7 linked regions of the Homo sapiens genome follow. The protein of the gene in region 1 interacts with the protein of each later gene in a pairwise test. Each region holds a gene or a part of one and is shown in the gene's direction. Other genes may lie near its edges. The genes, in order: FAM9B, SYT17, NOTO, RAB17, FASTKD3, STK3 and DAPK2.

The links.
Region 2: the proteins of FAM9B (region 1) and SYT17 interact in binary tests that used the Homo sapiens proteins (3 or more experiments, as listed by UniProt).
Region 3: the proteins of FAM9B (region 1) and NOTO interact in binary tests that used the Homo sapiens proteins (3 or more experiments, as listed by UniProt).
Region 4: the proteins of FAM9B (region 1) and RAB17 interact in binary tests that used the Homo sapiens proteins (3 or more experiments, as listed by UniProt).
Region 5: the proteins of FAM9B (region 1) and FASTKD3 interact in binary tests that used the Homo sapiens proteins (3 or more experiments, as listed by UniProt).
Region 6: the proteins of FAM9B (region 1) and STK3 interact in binary tests that used the Homo sapiens proteins (3 or more experiments, as listed by UniProt).
Region 7: the proteins of FAM9B (region 1) and DAPK2 interact in binary tests that used the Homo sapiens proteins (3 or more experiments, as listed by UniProt).

The regions. Positions count from the first base shown.
Region 1 is NC_000023.11:9,031,328-9,035,323, reverse strand, and holds the start of FAM9B (protein FAM9B), read left to right. Parts: upstream 1-1,196; 5' UTR 1,197-1,472; intron 1,473-2,040; exon of another isoform or gene 2,041-2,202; coding exon of another isoform or gene 2,203-2,337; coding exon 2,338-2,365; intron 2,366-2,862; coding exon 2,863-2,983; intron 2,984-3,162; coding exon 3,163-3,194; intron 3,195-3,996. UniProt on the Homo sapiens protein: May play a role in meiosis.
Region 2 is NC_000016.10:19,171,240-19,174,739, forward strand, and holds part of SYT17 (synaptotagmin-17), read left to right. Parts: intron 1-1,095; exon of another isoform or gene 1,096-1,344; coding exon of another isoform or gene 1,345-1,375; intron 1,376-1,389; exon of another isoform or gene 1,390-1,515; coding exon of another isoform or gene 1,516-1,520; coding exon 1,521-1,538; intron 1,539-2,190; coding exon 2,191-2,339; intron 2,340-3,500. UniProt on the Homo sapiens protein: Plays a role in dendrite formation by melanocytes.
Region 3 is NC_000002.12:73,205,574-73,209,073, forward strand, and holds part of NOTO (homeobox protein notochord), read left to right. Parts: intron 1-2,826; coding exon 2,827-3,041; intron 3,042-3,500. UniProt on the Homo sapiens protein: Transcription regulator acting downstream of both FOXA2 and Brachyury (T) during notochord development. Required for node morphogenesis.
Region 4 is NC_000002.12:237,584,235-237,587,734, reverse strand, and holds part of RAB17 (ras-related protein Rab-17), read left to right. Parts: intron 1-1,577; 5' UTR 1,578-1,580; coding exon 1,581-1,737; intron 1,738-3,500. UniProt on the Homo sapiens protein: The small GTPases Rab are key regulators of intracellular membrane trafficking, from the formation of transport vesicles to their fusion with membranes.
Region 5 is NC_000005.10:7,859,032-7,862,531, reverse strand, and holds the end of FASTKD3 (FAST kinase domain-containing protein 3, mitochondrial), read left to right. Parts: intron 1-474; exon of another isoform or gene 475-581; intron 582-728; exon of another isoform or gene 729-758; coding exon of another isoform or gene 759-879; coding exon 880-949; exon of another isoform or gene 950-1,047; intron 1,048-1,268; coding exon 1,269-1,383; intron 1,384-2,992; coding exon 2,993-3,097; 3' UTR 3,098-3,373; downstream 3,374-3,500. UniProt on the Homo sapiens protein: Required for normal mitochondrial respiration. Increases steady-state levels and half-lives of a subset of mature mitochondrial mRNAs MT-ND2, MT-ND3, MT-CYTB, MT-CO2, and MT-ATP8/6.
Region 6 is NC_000008.11:98,542,689-98,546,188, reverse strand, and holds part of STK3 (serine/threonine-protein kinase 3), read left to right. Parts: intron 1-3,500. UniProt on the Homo sapiens protein: Stress-activated, pro-apoptotic kinase which, following caspase-cleavage, enters the nucleus and induces chromatin condensation followed by internucleosomal DNA fragmentation.
Region 7 is NC_000015.10:64,043,686-64,047,843, reverse strand, and holds the start of DAPK2 (death-associated protein kinase 2), read left to right. Parts: upstream 1-1,358; 5' UTR 1,359-1,546; intron 1,547-4,158. UniProt on the Homo sapiens protein: Calcium/calmodulin-dependent serine/threonine kinase involved in multiple cellular signaling pathways that trigger cell survival, apoptosis, and autophagy.

The DNA.
Region 1 (3,996 bases):
CCTTTAGAATGCGAGTTTATCTCATTCATATTTCTTGCTCAACAGATTCACTTGGCCTTAATTCTGTTCTTTTATGTTATGTTATGGTCTCTGTAGTATTTTCTTTATTTTCCAACTTTTACTACAGGATTTGTATGCTTTGTGTGTGCTCTTTTTGGTTATATAGGCATTTAAGGCTGTGGATTAGTTTTCCTGATGACTGCCTTTATAATTTCAATAGTATAATGAAACTCTGTATCTTGATTTACAAACTTTAGGCAATATTTATTCACTCCCAACTCCGAAACAACTCTCTCCCTATTACAGGGGATCGGAGGTGGGAAAAAGCTGAGTTAACGATAAGTATTAAGGCATTAATTTGTGGGTGAAGGTTGTGGCATATGTCTGGATAAGTCTGGAGTATGAAGGTTTGTGGGCAAGTCTGGGGCATGAGGATGAGAAAGAAAAGTAGTGAGGAAACAAAAAAGGTTATGGGCTGGGCACGGTGGCTCACGCCTGTAATCCCAGCACTTTGGGAGGCCAAGGCATGCGGATCAACTGAGGTCAGGAGTTCGAGACCAGCCTGGACAACATGGTGAAACCCTGTCTCTACCGAATATGCAATAATAATAATAACAACAACAACAACAACAACAACAACAACAACAACAACAACAGGGCGTGGTGTTGGGCTCCTGTAATCCCAGCTCCTCGGGAGGCTGAGGCAGGAGAATCGCTGGAACCTGGGAAGGGGAGATTGCAGTGAGCTGAGATCTTGCCACTGCACTCCAGCCTGGGCAATAGAGTGAGACTCAGTCTCAAAAACCAACAAACACAAACGATAAAAGCACAATCCATTGATTAAAAAGGACGCAGCTGGGCATGTTGGAAGCACACAGGGCATGGGAGGGAGCCTGGGCTCCACCCACAGGGTGATGGCCATTCTAGCCAAAGGGGCAGGGGTGGCTGGAACAAGCCCCAGGGCGAGGTTCTAGGCCCTGTCCACTTGGCCTCCATCCCAAGTCCTTGTGTCTCTCCCCAGGAGGAGAAGCTGAAAGATTGTGGGGACAGAGGCCCCAAAGGGCCACCCCCACCCCAGTCCACAGCAACCACGGGCTGTCACTTAGGGGAAGGGTGAGGGCGTGCCAGCAGGGGGCCTGGCCCCACACAGCCCGTCACACGCATGTGCACTGAGCCGACCAATCAGCGAGGAGCGCAGGAAGTCCTGCCTGCAGCTCTCACGAGAACTGAGGACCCGTTTTCTTTACTTTTCTTTTTTTTTGTTTTTTTGTTTTGTTTTTTTTGGGACGGAGTCTGGCTCTTGCTGCCTAGGCTGCAGTGCAGTGGTGTGATCTGGGCTCACTGCAACCTCCGCCTCCTGGGTTCAAGCAATTCTCCTGCCTCAGCTTCCTGAGAGGACCCGTTTTCTAAGAGGTCCTAGTGGTGCCGCTGCCTGCAGGTTCTTTGAGGGCGCCACATCAGGGGTCCCTCAGGTGAAGCACTCGTGGTGGGGAGGCGGGAACGCAGGCACGAGGCCCTCTGGGAACCAGGGTGTGAAGCGCTGGGCAGCCCGCCGACCTGTGAGGAAATGGCCCCAGCGTCGTCGCCTGGGGCCTGGGTCAGGGCGAGGCCCTGAGGGTGGGCTAGGGTGGGCTGGGGTGGGCCAGGGCAGGGAGGGAGCTGGAGCTGCCTGGGTGATCCCTAGGGCCCGGGAGGGTCCTGGGGGCTTGTGCATGTGTTGGGGGGAGGGGCCGAGGGGGGGAGAAGTGGGAGTGAGGCGGGGGTGTTGTGGGGGACAGTCTGAGTGGGGCCCTCCTGCCTGGCCGCCCGACAGGACAGGACACTTGGGGTCACCGGGGGTCACCGGGGGTCCCCTGTGCGTCCAGGGGGGCGAGTGGCAGTGCAGCCCCTGACATTCCCCTAGAGGTGGCTGGGGAGATCCTGTGTCACCCAGCGGCCCTCCCAGCCACATGGGGTCGCTAGGTGACTCAGAGGTAGGGCTGAGTTCTGTCCCAAAAGGGCGGCGAGGATCCCGCAGAGGCCGTGGAGTTCAGGTGTGAGGGGCAGCTGTGAGCTTTGCAGCCAGCCCCGGGGACGGGCTGGACGGGCCAGGACAGGAGGGGACACTGGCATCTTTTCCGTCCCTTCCTGCTCCCACATGAGACCCAGGGCGGGCCAGCCCCACCCTTCTTGAACCTGTGATCCCAATGGCTTTCCTTTCCGATGCCAGGTTTCCTTAGCTTCCTTAGTGTGTCTTTGCGCTCACCAGGTTCGGGGATCGCCTCTAGCTTCCCAGGACAACCAGCCACGGATCCTGTGGGCAGGAGGGCTGCCAAGGCCCAGTTGGAGGCTCAATTTATGGCGGCCTGGGGGAAGAAGCATGCAGGTAAATACAGCCCAAGGGGACCCAGAAGAAGGTGCACGCCCAAGAGGACGGTCTGTCTGCTTTCTGCGCTGGGGGCACAGGGGCAGCCCGAGGCCCCAGGCCCCTTCGTGGCTCTGGAGTCCATTGTGCACGTGCTAAGATGCGCCAGGTTTTCAAAGCAGGCTCAAGGGCCTTAGGCTTCCCCGTGGAAGGCTCCCCCTCATAGCAGGGTTACAGATGCTCTCAGAGCAGCTCTTCTCCATGGGTGCAGTCCTGACATCCAAGGGGTCTGAACTGTAGTACGTTGTTTACTGGAACCTGAACCCGAAGGGCTTCCAAAAGTCCCTCGATAAAATGGTCAGGAACCGGTGATTCCATGTATAGCTCTGCTTTAAAGCTTTAATTGGCAGAGAGCCCCCCCCCCCCAAAAAAGTCTACAACTAGTACATTTCTCCACAAAAAATGTCCACAGCAGCATCTTCCTCTAAAAAAGGTTTGTCTTTTACATTTTAATGCAGGAAAGGATCCAGTCCGTGATGAATGTGAGGAAAGAAACCGTTTTACAGAAACAAGGGAGGAAGATGTAACTGATGAGCATGGGGAAAGAGAACCTTTTGCTGAAACAGATGAACACACGGGGTAAAGTGTTTAAGTCACTTTTGCCTGTCGGATAGGGTCTTTTAGGAAAAGTCAGCTTTGGACCATGTCATCACTGTTCTATTCTATGCAGAACATTTCACATAAGACATTTCTTTTCCCAACAAACATGGCATTTTGTGTAGTATTTTGTTAAAATTTTGATGTAACTTTTTTTACAGGGCTAATACCAAGAAGCCAGAAGATACTGCAGGTATGTTTTAGGAGTTATCTGTAGTTTATGAAAATTGTTTTCAGTCATACAACTGTTGCAGTAGGTTATATGAATTAGTGGACGACAAGACTGTCTTAAATGGCTTCTCATATGTAGCATTTAACGTACGTATTTAATGTAATCTATTTGATAAATTTTTCTTACCTTTTTGATTGTTGATGTGGAATGTGAGAATGCTTCTAATAATGGTGAAGCGAGATGGATGGCTTTTCTTTCATACATGTGGAAATTTAATTGTTTGGAGGATATTAGAGGACAGTGGAGGAGAAACAGCTCTATTCGTTCCTTTTAGTATACACAGATTAAGTCATATATCAATGGTTTTTTTTAGCTTTTACTTTAAGTTTGGGGGTACATGTGGAGGTTTGTTATGTAGATAAATTGCATGTCACAGGGTTTTGGTATACAGATTATTTTGTCACCCAGTTTATAAGCATAGTACCTGATGGGTGGTCTTTGATCCTCACCCTCCTCCTACCCTCCACCCTCAAGTAGGCCCAGTTGTCTGTTGTTCCTCTCTTCCTGTCCGTCTGTACTCAGAGTTTTTAATATGAGTTTTTCATGTTCCTAATTTAGCTGTTCTATTGTCACAGCTTTCTGATTTTGTTTTCTTTAAAGTACAAGAGAAAATTGAATTTTCTAAAATCATTTTCTATTATTATTCCAGTAATAAACTGTGTAGTAGAAAAGTAAGGACAACTTTTCTACCTAGTGAGAAACATGTAATTGGCTCCAAAAACTCATAAACTTTATATTGCTGTGTGAAATATTAGTTACACTC
Region 2 (3,500 bases), on another chromosome or scaffold:
TACCACTTCGAGGATTTCAATTTTTTCACAAGCCACGTACCACCTATACTATGATGATGATGATGATGATGATGATGATGATGATGATTATGATTATTATTTTAGACAGGGTCTCACTCTGTCGCCCAGGCTGGAGTGCAGTGGTGCGATCTCGGCTCACTGCAACCTCTGCTTCCCAGGTTCAAGTGATTCTCCTGCCTCAGCCTCCCCAGCAGCTGGGATTACAGGCGCCTGCCACCACGCCTGGCTAATTTTTTGTATTTTTAGAAAAGAGGGGGTTTCACCATGTTGGCCAGGCTGGTCTCAAACTCCTGACCTCAGGTGATCCACCCGCCTTGGCCTCCCAAAGTACTGTGATTATAGGCATCAGCCACCACGCCCAGCCCTACCTATGCTATTATTAACTTAATTTTTTTTCTATAAATGGGCTCATTTTTATTTTTACTTTAAAAAAATCATATGAAAAGGAAACATTATGTCACTAATATCATAGGAAACCAAGATCATGTGACATCGCAGAAGGCAACTAGAAGAATAAACCCAATGGGAATAATGCCACATTACTGAATTCTAGGTGGACGTGGCTGTCTCCAAGCCTCTGGACAAGATCTACTTTCTTTGTTTAAAAGAAAGGGGATGGGGGAGGGTGGAAATTGGTAAGTGGTAAAAGATGTTAACATGTAGTGGTACCAAATTGAGACTTTCTCCTCCTTAAAGGAGAATCGGAAAAAAGATAATAACTTTCTCCCTCTTGATTCAAAGTTCTGAGTTTGAGTCCCACCTCAGTTCACCTCTGGGACATGCCCGAGGTTGGGATGCAGTACTTCTAACCTATCTAGCCTACTTGGCCCATTTGGAAAACCACCTTAAAGAGAAGGAGGGAGTCTGTGCCTTGAGAACCCAGGAGACGAAGATGGGGAGGCGGGGTGGGGCCACAACAGGAAGGGAGGACCTCCTTCCTCAAGAGGACCAGATTAGGGCTTCCTTTTTAGTTCCCTCTATTTGTGGGTGGTGATAGGAAACACCCCACCATCACCATTGGAGCAGAATTGGAAGGTAGGGCCTCCGGGAGGGCGGGGGAGCCAAGTAACATCCACTGTGTGCCTGCCTGCATGTTAGCTAATCATGTCCTTTTGGGTTGGCTACATGGCTATTTCTGTATAGGAAGGTTTGCTCTTCTCCTGAAGTGTGGCTGCATTGGATAGCATGACTATCTATCCGCCCGCTCTGATTCATAACAGCATACGGTGCAAATCAAATCGAAATGCTAAAGTTTCCCATTTATTTGGTGTTGGTTAACCAGGAGGCTACCAGCAGCCCTGAAAATAGCAACACCTTGTTAGGATGTTAGGAAGTCAGCTCCCTTCCCAGGATGGTAAGTGGAAATATGCAGGGCTTTTTTTTTTTTTTGTAAAATTTTTTTGAGTTGCTGGAATATTGCTAAACTGGTCTTGTCTCTCTTTCTTTAACCCCTTCGTTCCCTTACGCCCTTGGCTTCATCGTGGATCTTAAAAGGGCAGTTGGAACCATTAAACGAGGTGGGTTCATTTGATGATTTGTTTGGTCTGGTTTCTAATCAAGAAATGCCTGACTTTCATTTTGGAGTCTTATGTGGGGCTGTGGGGATATTGAATATTCAACAATAACCTGGTGTTAATAACGGCACAGTTTCCATTCCTTTCTACCGAAAGGAGATCCCGGTTTTGAAAAGACACCAGTTGACAAGACAAGTTTCCCTCTCCACCCCTACTTATTCCGTTTGATTATCTCTGTCTGTTTCATGTCACCGAGATTTTTTAAAAATATTTTTTCCCCTGCTTTCAAGAAGACACAGTAATATTCATTGTGTTTCGAACATATCGTATAGCCCTTATGATGTTGTATAAACCACCCACATGTCAAGAAAGACGTTCACATAAACTACAAAAGAAAATACCTGCAAATGTTTTGCTTGCTACTAACGGCTCCAGCGAGTTGATGTTTGCTATCTTTGTGCCTGCAGTTGGTAAATAGAAATGGAAAACATTTTGTTCTAAGTGCTGAGCAGCAGAGCCAGAACTCCTGAATGTCTATTTCTCATCCGAGATCGGCTGCTTGTAATTTTGGGTGTTGTTTCTCCTCTTCCTCTTCCCCACCCTGCCCACCTCCCCTCTCCCCCATCCCCCCGCCCACCTCCCCCAATGGCCTCAGGGTTTTCTTTCTAGAATCTCTGGTCTGCTGCTGTGCAGATGGACCTGCCGGCACTGCTGTCAGAAGTGCTACGAGTCCAGCTGTTGCCAGTCAAGTGAGGATGAAGTTGAAATTCTGGGACCTTTCCCTGCTCAGACCCCTCCCTGGCTGTAAGTAAAACTGCTCTGAACTTCTCTGAAATCAATTTCAAGACTTTTCCTTTTTAATGAGAAGGCGGGTTGGGGGTCTGGGCCACGGGAGGGAGGATTTGGGGGCATGAAAGAGAAGCAGGCTGAGTTTCCAGGGACAACTTTGCTGCAGACTGGGGATATGTTCTGTACCCCTCATTTTGTTCGGCAAGCTGGCGAGACCAGCTGGTGGTGTGGTTTTAGTTCACCTAGTGGCACATCGGGCCTTCTGAGATACGAACCGTGTAATGCTAAGCGTGTGGGCGTTTTTAGTCACGTGGAGCGTGGTTCCGAGCAGAAAAGGAGATCTGTGAGCCGAGCCTCTATATTCTTCAGGGGCTGACCGCATTCTGAGGGTTTCCATCCAAGTCAGCGTGACAAGATTCCCTAGCACTTAGCCCAGGGCCTGCACATAGTAAAAGCTCGATAAATATCCATTGCATGGATGGGTAGACGGAATGAACAAACAAGTGCCTTTTTGCTGCTCCGAACAAGAACTTCAGAAACAGGGAAGCAGAAAAGCACCTCCAGGCTCCATCCTGTCCTCCAACGCTGTTTATGTTCTCTCTGGCATCTTTCGTTTTATTTCTAATTTGCTCTCCTCCCGCGCCTGCATACAACATCTCCATCTGCCAGTCGCTCAGATATTTTGGGAACGCAGTTTTGAAGCTTCTCAGCCACGTGCCTGGTCCACCTCTCCGTGACTGAGAGAGGGACGTGGTCAGAGAGCCTGGGTACAGTCAAGAAGGTCGGGGCTGGGAAGGATCAAGAAGTCATCAAGTGAGCTTGTCATGCTTCGGAGGGGCAGGCCCAGAGAGGGAGACAGACAGCGGCCAGGACCCACAGCTGGAGCCTGGCAGAGTGGAAGGAGGCAGCGCTGTTTCAGCTCAGTCCTTGGCCTGAGATTCCAAAAGTCTCTGGTGTCCCATCTTTCCCTCCAAGCTGGGGGCTCATGCCTCAGGCCTCTCATTTTCTCTTCTTAGAAGCAAGTATCAAATATTTCCATAGCAAAATGGTTCTGTATCCAGGCTCTGTGGTCTCAACTACTATTTCGAGTTCTGTGACCTTGGGCAAGTGGTTTGATCTCTGTGTGCCTTGATTTCCCATCTGTGAAATGGGATGATAAAAAGAATAGTATTTCTC
Region 3 (3,500 bases), on another chromosome or scaffold:
GATTATGGCGGTATTCTTTTGTTACATAGAAAAAATTTTAATTTTTATGTTTGATGTGTTTTTACAAATCCTTTTTTTTTTCTTTTTTGAGACAGGTTCTCTGTCACTCATGCTGGAGTGCAGTGGTGCGATCACGGCTCACTGCAGCCTCAATGTTCCAGGCTTAAGCACTCCTCCTTAGCTTCCTGAGTAGCAGGGACCACAGGCATGCGCTACCATACTCAACTAATTTAAAACATTTTTTTTTGTAGAGATGGAATCTCACAATGCCTGTCTCAGCCTCCCGAGTAGCAGGGACCACAGGCATGCGCTACCATACTCGACTAATTTAAAACATTTATTTTGTAGAGATGGAATCTCACAATGTTACCCAGGCTGATCTTGAACTCCTGGGCTCAAGTGATCCTCCTGCCTCAGCCTCCCAAACTGCTGGGATTACAGGCATGAGCCACTGTGCCTGGCCCCACATCTTATATGATACTTGGAAAGAACTTCCTCACTGTGAAGTCATAAAATAACTTCCCCATTTTTTTCTAAATTTTTGTGGGTTTACCTTTTTACATTTAAATATTTCCTCCATTTAGATTTTTTTTAGTGCAAGGTATTGGGTATGGATCCAGCTTAATTTTTCCCAGATCTGGAAATAATCCCTCTTCCCCATTGGATTATCACTTCTGTTTTAATTTTTATAATAACCATTGACTTTCTTCTTGCTCTGTGCCTGGCACAGTGCTAAGCACCCTGTAAGCATCATATGCTTTTGTTTTTGTTGTTGTGGTAGTTGTTGTTGTTGAGACGGGGTCTTACTCTATTGGCAAGGAGTGATCTCGGCTTGGCTCACTACAACCTCTGCCTCCCGAGCTCAAGTGATCCTCCTGCTTCAGTCTCCCAAGCAGCGGGGTCTACAGTTGTGCACCACCACACCTGACTAATTTTTGTATTTTTTGTAGAGATAGGGTTTTACCATGTTGCCCAGGGTGGTCTCAAACTCCTGGGCTCAAGCGATGGGCCCATCTCAGTCTCTCAAAGTGCTGGGATTATAGGCATGAGCCACTGTGCCTAGACAGCACCATGTTAAAATCCTGACATCTCTGGAAGTAGGGATTATTATCACCATTTTACATGTGAGGAAATCAAGGCTCACAGAAGTACATTGTCTTGCCCAAGGTCCTCTGGCTGGTAATTGGTGGCAGAGCTAGGATTCCAACTAGAGCTTTTTTTTTTTTTTTTTTTTTTTTTAAGACAGAGTCTCACTCTATCACCCAGGCTGGAATACAGTGGCACAACCTTGGCTCACTGCAACTTCCGCCTTCCAGGTTCAAGCGATTCTCCTGCCTCAGCCTCCTGAGTAGCTGGGATTACAGGTGCCCACCACCACATCTGGCTAATTTTTGTATTTTTAGTAGAGACGGGGTTTCGCCAAGTTGGCCAGGCTGGTCTTGAACTCCTGACTTCAGGCTATCCGCCTGCCTCAGCCTCCCAAAGTGCTGGGATTACAGGTATAAGCCACCATGCCCGGCCTCAACTAGAGCTCTTAAGGAACACACAGTACAGCCTACTTTCTTCTCCAAAGGTCAATTTCTGATTCTGAAACAAGGCTGACTAGATACACCAGGCTGTATGTCTGATGGGCTTTTCCTGATCTTTTGGTCTACCTTGGCAGGCACAGTGTAAGCCTAGTGGGCCCAGTGGTTGGAGTCCTAAGCAGCCGGGACCCCAGATACACTCCCTTTGTTGGGGCAGTCTGTCTGCCAGCCCTGAGGACTCCCCAAGGCTAGTGGGGGCTGAGTGGCCTTAGCATTATGCTTGCCATTCTTCTGCCTAGAATACTATACCCCCAGATAGCCCAATGGCTCACTCCCTCATCCCCATCAAGATTTGACTTAGGAACTGCTCTTGGTTGATGCATCTCCACTGGCCCACAGCTTGGTCTCATTTATTCCCGTGGCTTAAAATACCATCTATATAAGCTGATGACTCCCAATTTTTTTTTTAATTGAGACAGAGTCTTGCACTGTCACCCAGGATGGAGTAGAGTGGGCTCTATCTTGGCTCACTGCAACCTCTGCTTCCCGGACTCAAGCAGTTCTCCTGCCTCAGCCTCCTGAGTAGCTGGGATTACAGGCATGTGCCACCATGCCTGGCTAATTTTTGTATTTTTAGTAGAGACGGGGTTTCACCATGTTGGCCAGGCTGGTCTTGAACTCCTGATCTCAAGCGATCCGCCCCCTTCAGCCTCCCAAAGTGCTGGAATTACAGGCATGAGCCAACGTGCTCAGTGATGACTCCCAAATTTGTATCCTCAGCTCAACCCTCTCTTCTGACTTCTATCTCTTCTGACCTCATTTCTAAGATGTAAGCTCCATAACGACAGAGATTTTCTGTTTTGTCCTGAAACCATGCATGACACACAGTAGACATTCAAAAAGTATAATATTTGTTCAGTGAATTAAAAGGGTGAACCCCTGGGGGTCTCTTCTCTGCCCATTCCATGGCGTTGCCAGAAGCAGTCAAGGAGAGGAAAGGAAGGCAAAGAGAAGGGAGGTTTGGCAACTCCTCTTAGGGGCCAGAAGTGAAGCCACTTGGCTAGAGAGTAGTGGTGGCAGACAGTCTCATTGCATTGTCCCTTCTTTCCCATTTGTTTGTTTCCTGTTATTTCTGCACAGTCTCTTTCCACTGTCTTCTTGCACTGTTACCTGGCCAAGGGGAAGGCAAGGTAGCAGAGCTGTGTGTGCCTTCTCATTTTGCCCAGATGGGAGTGCAGGGGGCTTCTGGCTAACCTCCCCTGCTGCTGGATAACCTCCCCTGCTGCTGGTTGCTCTTTAGGGTTGGAGCTGGCTCACTGCTCAGGACTCTGGGCCTTCCCAGACTGGGCCCCAACGGAGGACCTACAGGACACTGAGAGACAGCAAAAGAGAGTCCGAACTATGTTTAACTTGGAGCAGCTGGAAGAGTTGGAGAAAGTGTTTGCAAAACAGCACAATCTGGTGGGGAAGAAGAGAGCCCAGCTGGCAGCTCGGCTCAAACTTACAGAGAACCAGGTGGGAGTAGGGACTCCTATTGGGCCTGGGCTGCACCTGGGGACAAACACTACCTCAGCAAGGCCCTAAAAGGAGGGTGGGAGGAAGATATGGGCCCTCTTCCCTGTGCCAGGCTGTTGAGGGGACAGGCCCTGACTTTTTGCACACTCTATATAATGAAAAAAAAAAGTCCCATTTGAAGTCACATAATGTGAACAACTTGGAATGTTAACTTAGATTATTAGTCTAAAAATTGATAATAAAGGATTTCCATGCTAAATAAGGACCTGCCAGTAAAATTAAGTAGATGTGGCCAGGTGCGGTGGCTCACGCCTCTAATCCCAGCACTTTGGGAGGCTGAGGTGGGCAGATCACAAGGTCAGGAGTTCAAGACCAGCCCAGCCAACATAGTGAAACCCTGTCTCTACTAAAAATACAAAAAAATCAGCTGGGTGCCTATAATCCCAGCTACTTAGGAGG
Region 4 (3,500 bases), on another chromosome or scaffold:
GGGTTCCAGGCATGTTTGGGATAACCACCCGAGTCTACTATGTGGAACCCTTCTTCTCTGATGGGTAGAGAGCCCTAAACCCTCCTGTTCTGGACTCCATGACTCTCAGTCACTTTCTCTCTAGAACGATCTTCTTGGTATCTAGGACTCAGTCCTATTTGTTTTGAGATTGATTCCAAACTTGATTCCCTCCCCTCTTATCCCTGCAGGGCAGACCAGACCAGTCTGTGGCCATGGCTCCTTACTGGCGGCAGTGAGGGCATGTGGGCTGCTTCCAACCACTCCTGCTTTTCTTCTTTCCTTTTCAAAATTCCTCCCCTTCCCCCTTTAGGGAGCCTCCCTCTTGCCCACTGTGGTGAGGAAGGGAGAAGAGACTCTGTTCCCAGGACCAGCTGCCCCTGATGGGTTTCATATTTTTTGTGGGGAGCTTCTCTTCCTAGATAATAAACACAAAGTGATAACATTAGAACATTATTAGAATGTCACCATTTTGCAACCCCTTAGTAAAATAGTGGGTCGAAGTAATAGTCTTCAGTGACTGCCAACATCACAGAAAGACAACTGGACATTATTTGCCTTCTGTGGGAAGTGCACGCACACTCTCATGGCAATCTTGCCAAAAAATAGCCTGTATCTAATCAGGTTTATGTCCTGAACCACCGCGGTATCAAAAATACAGAGTTCATAGGACTCTATTCAATAACACAGGGGTGTAATCAGCAACATCCGTACTGGAAATCTACAGGACAACCTGATTTCTTCAACACATGAACTGCAAAGAAAAAAAAATACCTGTATCTCTACTGAGATTTGCAGATGATAGAATGCCTGGGATCTGCTTTACACAGTACCCTGCAGGGGGAGGTTTGGGAGTGTGAGTGATACAAATGGCTGAGCTGATTACTGGGGAAGCGGGAGGTGGGTCTATGGGCCCATCGGACCGTTCTCTCTATTGTGGTGTGTACATGAAAGTTTCTATGATGAAAAATACGCAGGGGTCGCCCACGTTTATTTTGATCACGAAGTTGGTTTTCTCTGGGGCATATTACTGTGGGTTCTGAGGCTTTAGACACAATGGGAATGTGTCTACGATGTTTTGAGATCATTGAGACACCAACCTTTTTTTAGGTAGATTTTTTCTGAAACACCAACTTTAATCCATGAACAACCACCCAAGAAATGCTCAGATGCTTTTTACCTCTCCTTGCATTAGATACTTTGGGGACAAGTAATAGATTTGTAAAAACTGAAAGTAATGGAAGGAGGACAACAAGCCCTGAGACCGTCACATGTAATCATTGCTTTTCAGGGTCTGCAATGACCCGTGCCCGGAGCTTTCCAAGCAAAGCTCCTTTTGTTCCTTACCACAGACCTAAAAATGGACCTAAAAATTGCAGATGGGGAGATGGGGCATGGGGTGCAGAGGGAAGCAGGAGTGTGGACCTAGGTGGCCTCTGAGTTGGGAGCTCTGTATTGGGCCATCTGCTCCTGACCGAGAAGCAGCCCCGGGGTTGAGCTTGCTGAGATGATGTGGCTCCGATGTTCCACTTGCTTCAGACGGTTGTGATTCTTTGCAGGGCATGGCACAGGCACACAGGACCCCCCAGCCCAGGGCTGCCCCCAGCCAGCCCCGTGTGTTCAAGCTGGTTCTCCTGGGAAGTGGCTCCGTGGGTAAGTCCAGCTTGGCTCTTCGGTACGTGAAGAACGACTTCAAGAGTATCCTGCCTACGGTGGGCTGTAAGTGAGGGCAGAGCACCCCTTTGTTGGTCTTCAGTGCAGAAGTCTGGGCTGCTGACCCACACCTGGGGCAGATGGGGACGAGGCCCACCTAGGAATCCCCATGCTGGGACCTTGAGCTGCCTGTGTCCAGTGCGTGAGGGGAGGGGGTGAGGTCCAAGAGGGCAGCCACAGAATCTACAAAGACAGGAAATGCCCTTGGCTCTGGGTCAGGTTTCAGCTCAGCTGGAGTCTGCAGGGGGTGGAGATTCTGGGGTAGGACCTCTGGCCCCAAAGGGTCGGGCTGGGTGCGAGGGATTATGCTGGTGGAAGGGACAGCCCGGAAGAAGCCTCCTGGGCCCTGGCCACTCAGCGGCCTAAACCAGCTGTCCTCTCCCACCACCCAGGCCGCCCTCCTGCTAACACTGCTCCCTTGCTTTATTTACCCCAACAGCATCTTCCTTCCTGCCTGGACTTGGTTTACCAGCTTGGCCTGGATTGGGGGTGGGAAGATCATTTTGGGGGTGGGCGGGGAGGGAGACCTTCTCTCTGTGTTTCTTAAAAAGGCTAACCTGTCATGAAGCTCAGGAGTAACTGTATGGGGCATCTGCAGGCTGCTGGCCTCCTTCCCATCCTGCTGTGGGCACAGTCTGCCTAGGCAGTGAAACCCAGTTTTCACCTGAAATGGGGAAAGCCAGCGTGTTCTTTATGCCCATTCCCCCTGGGGGAACACATGCAGAATCAGAGCCTCGGTTTCAAATTCGGACTCTGACATGGATAAGCTGCACATCTCCAAATTCACTCATTCATTTACTCATCTAACAGGCATCTGTTGAGCATGAACCCTTTTGCAGGCCTGCGTTAGGTGGGATGGATTCTATAACCAGCTAAACAGATGCACCAAACACAGAAACACAATTGCAAGATGTGGCACATGACGTTAGCTATTTAGGGAGCCCTTCCATTTTCTCAGGGGGGTGGTTCCTGAAGGATCCCCAGGGGATACAGGGGAATTGGCAGGGGTCTGCCTGGCCCGACTCCCAGAGCTAGTGGTGAGAAGGGCCAGGGTGATGGTGAGAGGCTGTCTGCAGAGGGGGACCCTGGGGAGAGAGTCAAGGTTACCCTGTGGTGTGCAGTACAATCCTCTTCTCCATTAGCAAGGAGATCTGTACCCCTCACCCCCCAAGTCCTGATATTGGACTTGGCTTCCTTTAAAAATACATCAAAATGCCAAGGCTGGCCTGAGGGTGGCCTCAGTTGAGAATAGAGCACACAGATGGGGGCCTCACCAGGCCTGGATGTTGAGAGCTTTGTACCTGGGTGGCTGGTATTCAAGATGCAGAGAGAGGCAGCAGGTGTCAGGCCAGGTGAGCTGGACTGGGGATGGATCTCACTCTGACACGGAGGTCTGCACACTGTGGCTCTCTGGCTGTTCTTGTTGTTTTGTGAGTAAGGTTCTGTGGAGACACAACTCTACCTCTTCAGGTACTTACCCTCTGTAAATGATATTCTTGCTGTTCCTCCTCCTCTATTCACTCTAAAATGGCAGCAGGGTTGAGTGGTTGCAGCAGTGACCCCATGGCCAGTAAAACCTAAAGTATCTGCTACAGGGCCTTTTACAGAAGGACTCCATGACGCCACCCTAGCAGAGCCTGCAGGAGCCAGCGCCCAAAGGCACTCACTAGGTGAGCGCAAGCAGGGCTGAGAGATTCCGAGATGCCCGGTTGGAGCGTAGGAGGGTGCTTTGGATTCATTGAGACGTGCTTGGACGTGCTCAGCCCACA
Region 5 (3,500 bases), on another chromosome or scaffold:
GGTCTAAATAAAATAGTACCTGGAACGTAGGAAATGCTCACTAATTGTTAGCTACTACTATAACCTAGGCTTGTACTGTCCAAATATAGTAGCCACTAGACCATGTGGCTATTTAAATTTAAATTATTAAAAGTTTAAGAAAATTCAATTCCTCAGTCACATTGTAAGTGCTCAGTAGCCACATGTGGCTCATGGCTGCCAAATTGGACAGCACCATTATAAAGATTTCCACATCACAGAAATTTCTCCTGGACAGCACTGACAAGAGACTCCAAGTCCTCCGTCCTTACAGTTCTTCTAACTTGATGAGCAGAAGAAAGCCTTCTCGTAAAGGACAGCAGTTCATAGGCTTCAGATGGTCACTTCTCTTCTCTTTACGAAGGGAACTGCAGTTTACCAGAGGGGAAGGACAGTTCGGAAGCCTTCCGTGCTCGCAGACCAGGTGTCTGGGTGTGGCATGCTTTCTTTACTTACCATGGAGGCACTGCAAGTTGGAATGATGGAAGTTATGAGTTGCACAGATGTCTAATGTCTTAACTCAAGGGTTTTCTTCACAGTCTGGATTGAAGGATCTCTGCCACCTATCATAAGGGGAAAGAGAAAGCATGCATGGTTCTTGTCATACCCCAGATAACTTCAGAACCCATTCTGTGGTTTAGCGTTATTGAGCTTTCTTAATTTAAGGCTGACTTGATTGATCATAAAGCCAATTGAATTAAAATTCTCACCATTGTTTGGTTGTGGTCATTACTTTGCAGCCTTCAGTCCAATTGATCAATGCAAGGTGGAAGGAATCAAAGCAAAGCAAAGGAATGAATACAGGAAGATAGTGTTTGTGAGGGTATCACACGAGGAATTTTTCCTTTCTTCTCTCACCAGATGTTGAAATTAAATTAGATGAAGAAGGATTTGTATTGCCATCCACAGCTAATGAAGATATCCATAAAAGGTACAGGAAAATGTTGTGTTTTTCACATTACAAGACTCGTTGAGGCTAATAAGCAGCGGTATCTTTTTCTCAAGAAGGTGAAAAAAATAGATATGATTCTGGAAATTAAAATACTACATTTCAGAATACCATGTTGGGAAATTCCTTGTAATATTTTATAAACATTAATATTAATAAGATCAAATTCATGATTCATTTGAAAATAATATTGGCACATAGTAATAGCCAAATCCCAAATAAACTTTGGCAACTAAAATATATAATAAATATTTTGGATTATTTAAAAAATTAAGTATTTTTCTCCTTTTTTATTTTTCAGGATAGCACTGTGTATTGATGGTCCAAAAAGGTTTTGCTCCAATAGCAAACACTTACTGGGGAAAGAAGCTATTAAACAAAGACACCTACAGTTACTCGGTTATCAAGTTGTTCAGGTACGGTTTCACCTATTTTTTTTGTTTCCCAAAAGCAAATCCTATTTCAAAATTATTTTTCCAGGTTACTTTTAAAAAGTAATCTGAGGCACAGTAAAATTTTAAAGAATTTGATCAGGCAGCAATTATTGAACTGGACAGCACAAAACTCGAAATGGCTTGGGAACCCAAGAGGGAGGCTTTTATAGGAAGAACACAAGTACACAAAGAATCTACTTGACTGGTTACAGTTACATATTCTTGCTGCCTTGTTTGAACTATTCTGTGGAAAGTTCCTAGTTATATAATTATTAGTTTGTGAGATGCTTCTGATTGGTTGAGCTTAAGTTCTGTTTTTCTGTAGTAGAAGCTTCTACAAGAAATAGCCCAAGTTAAATTTTGCTTAACATTTGCACTTTAAGCAAAGTTAAGGTTATTTTCAAGGCCCAACTGGCTTGGTCTGCTCAGGGATTTTTCAGGCACAGGCTCCATTTTAATTTGCTTTTACAGTACTAACTGGTTTGCCAGCCCAGTGGACCACCGATCTTACGTCTAGTTTAAATCCCAACGTTGTTAATTCGGCTTAAATCTCTTGACTTATATTTTGAAATACAGAATTTTCAGAGCTTTGATTTTTCAAAAGTGGGGCCTACCTATATTCATTATAAGCTATGCTTAACCCTGCTTTTAGAATTACTCAATTGTTGGAATATATGTTCTGTTTTAATTTCTCCTTGATTTAATAAATAAAAATGAACAAGATAATCCATTAAAATAAGGAGCTTCACCAACACTTAATATTTAAGACCTTTTAAATATTTCACTGTAGATAATGTAAGAAGGTCTTATGTGAGGGCTCAGCAGTGCGTGAGAATGAGCGCTGCCCTAATTCTCTAAGCTGTCAGTACTAGGCAGCACTGTGGTTTCATATCTGCTGACTTTTTTCTCCATCTTGCACATCCCCAGCTGAATATTCCTAAAACTAATCATGCCAGTGTCTACTCAGAAGCTTCAATGTTTCTTTACTGCTTACAGAATAAAGTAAAAACTTCTCTACATCTTAACATTCAAGACCCTCCAATGGTTGGCCTGCAGCCAGGCTGCAGGCACATGATTACTACCTGGCCCCTCTGCTCCCAGCTGAGCAGACTCTCTCCTTTGCTGCGCCTCCTGCTCTCTCCCTCTTCATTCCCTCTTTGTCCCTGCTGCGTCCTCCAGCTCTCTGAATACCTACCTTCCAGCAGTTTGTCGGCATCCCCACCCTCATCTAATGAAATGCTCACTCCCTCTTAGCACTAGATCACCAACCTACAGCTTGTTTTTTATATTTATTGTGTAATTTAACTTGCCACCCAAGTTGTGAACTCCTGGAGAACAAGAGATCATGTTTAATTCTTATTTGCATATTCTACATATTAATTCATCAAATATTTACCAAGCCCCTTCTCAGTGCCAGGCACTGTTCTAGACATTGGGGATACAGGATGAAGAAGCTGGTTGGGATATTTGCCTTCCAGGAGCTTACATTCCGCTGTGGGGAAGCGTGTAAGAAACAAACAAAGTAACCAATAGCCAGAGGAACCTCAGATTTTGAAGGATCTTGACCAGTTTTACTTTTCTACCTTTACAGATCCCCTATCATGAGATTGGGATGCTAAAATCAAGACGTGAATTGGTGGAATATTTACAAAGAAAACTGTTTTCTCAAAACACTGTTCATTGGTTGCAAGAATGAATACTGACTTCAGAACTCAAACAATGGAAGAACTTGCATTTTTATGGAACTCAGTATTAAAAGAAAAATATAATGTGAATTAGCCACTTTGCAGAATATGTTCTAGACTGGTGATCTGAAAGCATCTGTAGTTTTCCTTATACTATGTATACATTTATTGTGGTAAAATTTAAAATTAATTTTAATTTAATACTAGTGTCATAGATACTTTTTGTACATCAAACAATTGATCATGTGCTGTAAAGGAATTCAATGAATAAATGTTATTTTTAAGTATTTTGTCATAGTTATCTGCTAAATGAAAATATTTTGCTCTTTAGAGACCTTTTGTTTTCTAACAGATGGAGGAAATTTTTTCTCTTTGTGTGCTGTGAGTGGAAGTGAGATTTACCGTAAGGAAAAG
Region 6 (3,500 bases), on another chromosome or scaffold:
GTATGACTTTTTGTCACAGAGATTTTAGTGAAAACCAATTTTGAAGTTGAACAGATAAGTGGTTTTTATAGCTGCAGTTGTTTTATGGACCTCAGCAAATTTTAAATCCCATGAGCCAACTTTCTGTGTTTTTTGTTTTTACAAGTTAGACATCATTCTGTAATGTGAGACTTCAGTGTTTCCAAAATTCTAATCAAGTGATGTTAGTATAACCCCTAGGGATTGTCATATTGTAGTATAGCAGTAGTAAAGTATGTGAAGAAGTTATTGAGGGAAGACTTACTTTTTCTGAAACCATATAATTATTGTAGTTTTGTTTTTCTCGTGATCTAAATCTTTAAAACTTCTTAAATTAGTTGGTATGAGGTCTCAGCTTATGTCACATCAGTCAAAGCCACATTTGCTAATGTGTCTTTAGCATTTTTGTTCCCTAATAAGATGATAGCAGTATATTATTTTTGGTTTTCTAAAATCTCTACAATGTGTACTGAAGATTTAGAATTTCATCTCTTTTTCCATTGGAGTTTCAAGTGAGTTGCCTGATTTAACATCCTTGTCAGTTTAAATTATGTTTACACTTACTCTTTTATACCTTTAACCATGAAGCTAGAAATTATGGGCCTATTTTCCTTACCTCTAGAAAGGAAAATTACCCACAGACCCTTTGAAGGGAAGTGGAGAAAAATGACAAAAAGTATTTTAAAATTTGATCTGCCTTTTAAAAAATGGACGTGGACCCTATGGGCATGTCCCAAGAATAACTTTCTAAACCTGTTTTTAGCAATGATGGCATTACTTTTACCCTCCCGCTCCCAGTCTTCCTATTCAGATATCCCTAAGGCCTCCTCATTCCCCATGGAATGTCCAGGCTTCAGCTGTGTCACCAAGATCCTTCACAGTCTGGCACTAGCCATTATTTACATGTGGATCTCTACTTCTTCCTTATGGATTATGTTTTATCCATACTAGTCTGTGCCAGTTGGAATTCTGAATGCTTGACACTGGGTAAAAGCAGGTTGGTTGTCATTCAAGAAAATCAATTTAGGATTTATTATCCTGGAGTAGATTAGGACCAGGTCAAGAATCTATGTCATCAAACTGATGGGGTAGGAGAGATTATTTCATCATGGGTGACTCTGGGAGAGTAGTAGCTTCAGCAAAGAAAGACTGGGGCTTTTTAGTTTGTTCAGCTCAGATCTACTCAGTTAGCTCTGTTTTTATGGAGGAACTTTCTGATCTTACAGAGCTGTGGCTAGATTGGTAGCACTAGTTGCCCTGGAGGGAAACTATGTCTTATGGGTATCTGAGGAAGAGCCATATTTTCCAGCCAGGTTTTTATTTTTCATGTGTGTATCTGTTGTTTCTCCAGATAAGTCACGAAGTTTGTCCTGGTAAGAATGCTGTATAAATCTCCTCTGCCACATAATAGTACATGCTCTTGGAATATTGGTTTCATGAATGAATACTAATTACAGTAGAGTCAGAGTCAAGCTGTGTGTGTGTGTGTGTGTGTGTGTGTGTGTGTGTGTGTGTGTGTGTTATAGTAGAATTAAAGATACATAGCTCTGGAAGCTAAGAGAACTTTCAGGTAAACCTCCTGCCTTGGTAAGATACTTTCTTTTCAAGTGTTCTACCATCCCTGCTTCTCATTTCACAGAGCAGACCCTCTGAAAATGTGTTCCTTAAGATACCCATTCAGTGAAATTCTCTGATAAATATAGATAAATAATATACAGTAATCAGAATTATTTGGGAAATGCATATTTATCCTAGAGATAAATTATTAGAGAACTACAGTATATATTATTAACTTATTAAATACAAATAGTACAGGAAGGAAACAGTTTAAAAATTACATTACCCAAACTTTCCTTCACTTATTTGACCATGAAAAGCTTTTAATGAGGAACGTATCAGTGATTAACATCCTGTGTAATAAGCATCTGAGAAACACATTTTGGGAAATGCTATCATGAGAGCCCTCTAGTTCCCTGACCCTAGTTCCTAGTCTGCTTTCTTTTTATTAGCACACCCTCCCTTCACTTCTATATCCAGCTTAGAGGCTATATTTCATTATTTCGTTGCTTCTGCCACTCTCGTATGTTCTAAACTCCTCTTAGAGGCTATATTTCATTATTTCATTGCTTCTGCCACTCTCTTATGTTCTAAACTCCTCTTAGAGGCTATATTTCATTGCTTCTGCCACTCTCTTATATTCTAAACTCCACTGCCCTAATGTCTTGTCTTTTCTGCCTCTCCTGGAAAACTTTGATATGGTCCAGTCTCAGTGTTCATCTTCTCTGCATCTTTACCCTGGCTATTGAGTGCTGCTGGAGATAATCTTCCATCTGCACAGATGAGGGCTGCCAGATCAAGACCTTCTCCCCCATTTGGGCCCTCAACTTTCCTGGAGGCCTGTGTTTCTCTGTTCAGCAATTCCTCATTCTACAGAGTGGCTAGTTTAGATCTTCACTAGATCTCTTCTTCCTGCCTCCCATCTCAGTTTCAGTAGATGACGTTGCTCCCTACTTTACAGAAAAAAAGTGAAATGTTATCATGCAAGTACCTAGAGAAGCTGTATAGGTGTTTTAAATGTGGTCTTTGGAATAAGGTTGAAAAATTGAGTCATTCTTAATTTCCGTTTCTTCCTTCACCCTTCATGGAAGTAACATCTCATCAGTTCTGCCCCCTAAATATCCCTATTCTCTTCTCATGATCTCTGCTTGCATTTCTTTAGTGCAAGTCCTCATAGTTTCTCACTTGTGAGGCTTCTAAACTGATCCTCTGCCTCCAATCTTCATTCCCTCCCCACCATACAGATTTCAGCACATTTCTCTTCTGCTTATGCCCTCCCAGTGACTACCAATTGCTTATAGGCTAAAGCTCAACACCAGTTAAGAAGCAGTATATGCTCTGGTTCCTACTTACCTTTCTATTCCCTCTTCATCCTTCTTCCAGCTTCTCAGCTCTTACAGAGCTTTTTTACCTTTGGCCACTTGCAATGCCTAAATCCTCCTGTGGGATTTATGCTTCTTTTGCTAAATCATATTCATTCACTCAGGCTCAGTTAAGAGGTTGCTTCCTCTATCAACCCCAGGTTAGGAATAAGTGCCCCTCTAATAGGCTCCCATCTCACCCCAAGCTTTCACTCTTACAGCACTGTCATGCTTTATTGTGAGCGTGTGCTTTTGTTTATTTCCCACTGTATTTTTGATACCTAATACAATACCTAGCACTTGGTAAGAGTTCATGAAATGTTTTCTGAACAAATGATGTGGTATAGTGAAGAGCATGGGATGTGAAGCCAAATCATTTAGTAATTGTGTTGCTTAATTCTGTCTGAGTTTCAGTGATAAATATTTGTCTCTCTGTTGTGTGTATATGTGCAGGTGTGTGTATTAGGTAAATTCAAAACATGCCTAGCAGTGTTTTAAATATAGTTGATAATCAATAAAGGATAATATTCATCTGTCCACCCTATTAATTTATCCTTCCAACAA
Region 7 (4,158 bases), on another chromosome or scaffold:
TGATAGGTAAATGGAAATGGAGGAAGAGGTGTTTAGGGATAGTTTGGTGGGGGACTTCTCATGTTGGTGAAACTTCACCAGTGGGTGTCATTCCCTTAGGTCCGTTGACATCAGAAACCACCTCTAGTCTTGGATATTACTCTATATATCATGCTGCTCTTAGGAGAGGAGGCTCGCTGGCTGCACTGTTCTGAATTATTGTGAAGTTTATAAACAAGGAACTCTTTGCCGAGGATGTCCTGGACCCGGAGGCACTGCTCAGCTGGGGGGTGGGGTCCATCTGTATTTGTCCCAATGTCCAAAAGGCTGAAGGGTGTGTGTGTGCTCACACTGGTAGAGGTCCTCTAGGTGCATCTTACACACTCCATCTCATCTCAGCCCCACCATAGCTTCATTAGGAGCTACCGGAAGGTGCGTTTCTCCCACTTTACTGATGAAGAAAGAGCCATGCCCAAGAACACACATGCGGAGTGGCAGGGCAGGGCTTTGAACCTGGTGGTAGGACTCTGAATCTAAGGCCCTTTTGAGGAGCCCCATGGGTGACTTAGGGATGGAAATTCCAGGGGTTGGAGGGGTCCTCATTTGCTTCCTCTAAACAGCCTCTTGTTTTGAAATAAGACAAATGAACTTGGCTTAAGTTCTGTTTTCCCTTCCTTCCTCCCTTCACCCCCTCACTCTCATTCCTTTTTTCCTCAGGGATTTTTTGGCAGAGGGCAGAGAGAGGAACCCATTCCCAAGTCCTCTATTAGAGAAGGCGTGATGGTGAGAGGGGGGCTTCACTCAGCAACCGTGCCAGGACAAAGGGCAAACGAGGGCAGGCCGCTCTCAGGCTGGGTCGGGGGCAGTGAGGAGCAGAGCGGCCCTTCTCATCGCAGCCCCCACCTTGCTGTACGCTGTGGGCTTGAGGTTTCCAGGAGAGTCTGCGGTGTAGGGAGCGCTCTGGCTGGGAGGGAGGAGACGGCCTATTCCTCAGTGGGGCTTCCTCGCTCACGGTGTGTATGGTGGGGAGAGGAGCACACAAGTACCATTTTCTGAGGATTGTGCCAGACCATGTCATACGTATAAGCTCATTCAAATCGATTTCCAGATAAGGCCGGGGGAGGGTAGCCGACTTGCCCAAGGCCACGCAGCATGTGCGCGGTAGAGCCGGTAGGGACGCGCAGAGGGTCTTGCTACCGACTCTCCCCGCTCTCCCGGGAGTCTGGGAGCCCTGAGGTGTCCCCTACCCGGCCGGGAAGCTGGGCTCTCGCCCCGGGACTGTCCGGAGGGGGCTCCAGCAGGGGGCGCCCCGAGCCCCGTCCCGGGCAGCCGGGCGCGCCTCCAGCCGGCGCCTGGGACGGGGCTGGCCGCTCCGCCCCCTCGGCTCCTAGGCTGCTCGGCGGGCGGGTGCCGGGCGCTCTGGGAGGAGAGGACTGCAGGGCCGAGCCCAGCGCACCCCGCCGCGTCCCCCGTTCCCGCCGCGCCCGCCGCGCCCGCCGCGCCCGCCGCGCCCGCCGCTCCCGCCGCGCCTGCCGCGGCCGCGACCGCGGCAGCTCAGCCTCCCGCCGTGAGTAGCACCCGTCTGCGGGCTCGATGGGCGGGACGGGGCGCGCGGCCTGACGGCAGCAGCGCCCGGGTCTGGGGCTGGCGGGGCGAAGAGATCCGGGGCACTCGCTCGCAGATCCCGGGCCCGCCGCCCCAATGCCTGACGCCGTGGCCCGGGGCATTGTGGCCGGCACCCGAGCGCGGGAGCTGCCCGCCGCTGCCCTGGGGCGCCCTCCGGAGCCTGGCACTTTGACCTGGGAGACAGGGTAGAGGCGGCGGGCAGAGCCAAGCACCCAGCAGGGAGATGGGAGACAGACGTCCATCGAGTTAGGCCCCCTGGAACGGGCAGAGCACGCCCGGCTCCCGGCCAAGTCTTCTCAGCTTGGGCTGACTCTCTCACCTCTTGCTCCCGCCTGGCACAAGGATGTGATGCGAGGAGGGTGCTCAGATGTCTGAGCTTCCTCTGGGGCTGAATGAAGCTGGGGTCCCCGCCGTCAGGCGCCCCGGCCTGGGGTAGAGCTAGGATGGGCGTGGGGGCGGCCAGCAGGTGTGCTGCAGGTTGGGGTGGAACGGCTTGGAAGGGCGTTGCCAACAGTTGACTAGGACTCTGGGCTAGGCATTTTGGAGGTCCCAAGGCTTGCATAGGTCTGGCTAACCCTCACCGTAACTCTGCACGGTGGAAATTGGTATTCTTACTTTACAAAAGAGAAAACAAGGTCCAGAGAGGTGAGCCTCGTTGAGGCCGTGCAGGTAATGGTAAGGCAGTGGTGCACACTGGAGGAGAGGGCACCATAGCTGGCTGCCTCGGGGGCAAGCGGGCAGGTGCAGGGACAGCGCCTGACATCTTGTATCCTGGAATCCTGTGGAGGGCAGCCACTCTGGTTTCTGACACTGCGACTCCCAACTGCCTCTGTGGAAGATATTCCTGGGAGAGTCCTGTTGACCTAAGAGGCCGTGGTGCCTTGGCCTCTTCACAGCTAACTTCACAGCCCTGTCCTTCCCCAAACCGCTCATCTCCCAAGATGTTTTTTGAGCACCCTCAAGTGGCACCACTGATGATTCAGCACCTTCAGAGGAGACTTGGGCAGAGGGGTCAGGGGTGTGTGGATGTGGCTGGAGGTCTGCTCCTCTGGGGTAAGTTCCTGGCTGGCAGGAATGAGACCCGCACTGACCCTGCCCACCTCCTTGAGGCCTCCCGATTTGTTAGCTGTGGGGTGAACAAGCAGGCTTCCCAAGGGAGCTGGATCTTTGCCAGAGAGACCAAGTTTTTCTTGTGTCAACTCAGGCAGGTGGCTGACCTTCTGTGGGCCCCAGCTTCCTCATTGGAGACTGTGATGGGTCAAAGCCTGGAATGTAGAGAGGAGCTCTGTAATGCCGGAGCCCCATCCCTTCTGTTGGCAGCCTCTCCAGAGCCTGAGTGTGATGATTCCTAATGGGGGTGTGTGTAATGAGACGGTCGTGTGTGTTTTGCCCAACCATTGCCTGCCCTCTTGCTGTGGTCCCGTTTCACTCACTTGCACTTGGTGAGGTGGGATGAGGAACTGAGAGAGTTCACTTTGCAGAGTGAGCTGGGCCAGTGGTGGAGAGGGCTTCTTGAGTGTTGAGAGTTTCCTATGAGGTGATCTTCCAGCCCTAGACACCTCCTCCTAGCTTGTCCCTCAGGAGGCCACTGACTTTGCCAACCCTGGTGACATCTTGGAGGAGTTGGGGTGGCTATCAACAGAAGAAGCCCTGGGAAGAGGAGCGGGATGGGTCACCTGTATGATGCTCAGTGAGTCCCTTCCCCTTTCTGGATCTCAGCTTCCTCTTGTAAAAACAAGTGGGTTAGACCAGACAGCAGTGGTTTTCAAACTTCTGTTTCACAGTGAATTCTTACCCAGAACGCCAACATATAGTATGGATAACGTGGAACTGCTCTGGCTTCCCCTTCTCACCCTGGTGATCCTGAAGCAGTTCTAAAAATCCCTAAATAGATGATCTATGGGGTTCTAGGAAATCTGTGGTAGCCCCCTGAAGTGTTGCCTGGTATTAGAGTTGTAGGCAGGAATTTGAATTCCAAGGACTCCATCAGGAGAAACATGGGCATTAAGGTGGGTATCATCCTGGGAGCATCTGGAGCTGATGGCCTGTGCTTCTGGCCAAAAGTTGTAACTGTGTCCCTTCCCTCTGCCATGTGATTTCAGCTTTTCGAGGCTGGAAAGGTCCTTGTGCCTCTGGCTCCTTATCTGGGTCCTAGCTGGTGACTATAATTCCACTTCAGTTTCACCCCTTTAGTTTGTTTCTAAACTGGTAAAATGCAAATTCGCCTTAGGAGAGGTGTTAGGAAAGTGCTTGAAGTGGCTATCAGTTGTTTTACCTGATGAGCATCTGAGTAGCGGCCTTGAGAAAGGAGGCTGGGGAACTAAGTTAAAATCAGCCAACACTTATATAGTGCCTACTGTGTACTAGCCTACGACAAGGGGACAGAGGTAGGAATGTCACAATTCTTGCCCTTATGGGGCTCCAAGTCACAAAGAGGAGGGAAGGAATTCACGTTATCCATGGACCGTTTAAAACATTACACATGGGTTATCTCATTTGTCTCACATTAGTCTCATTTTAAAAAATTATGTAAAATTTTGATCACATACAAAA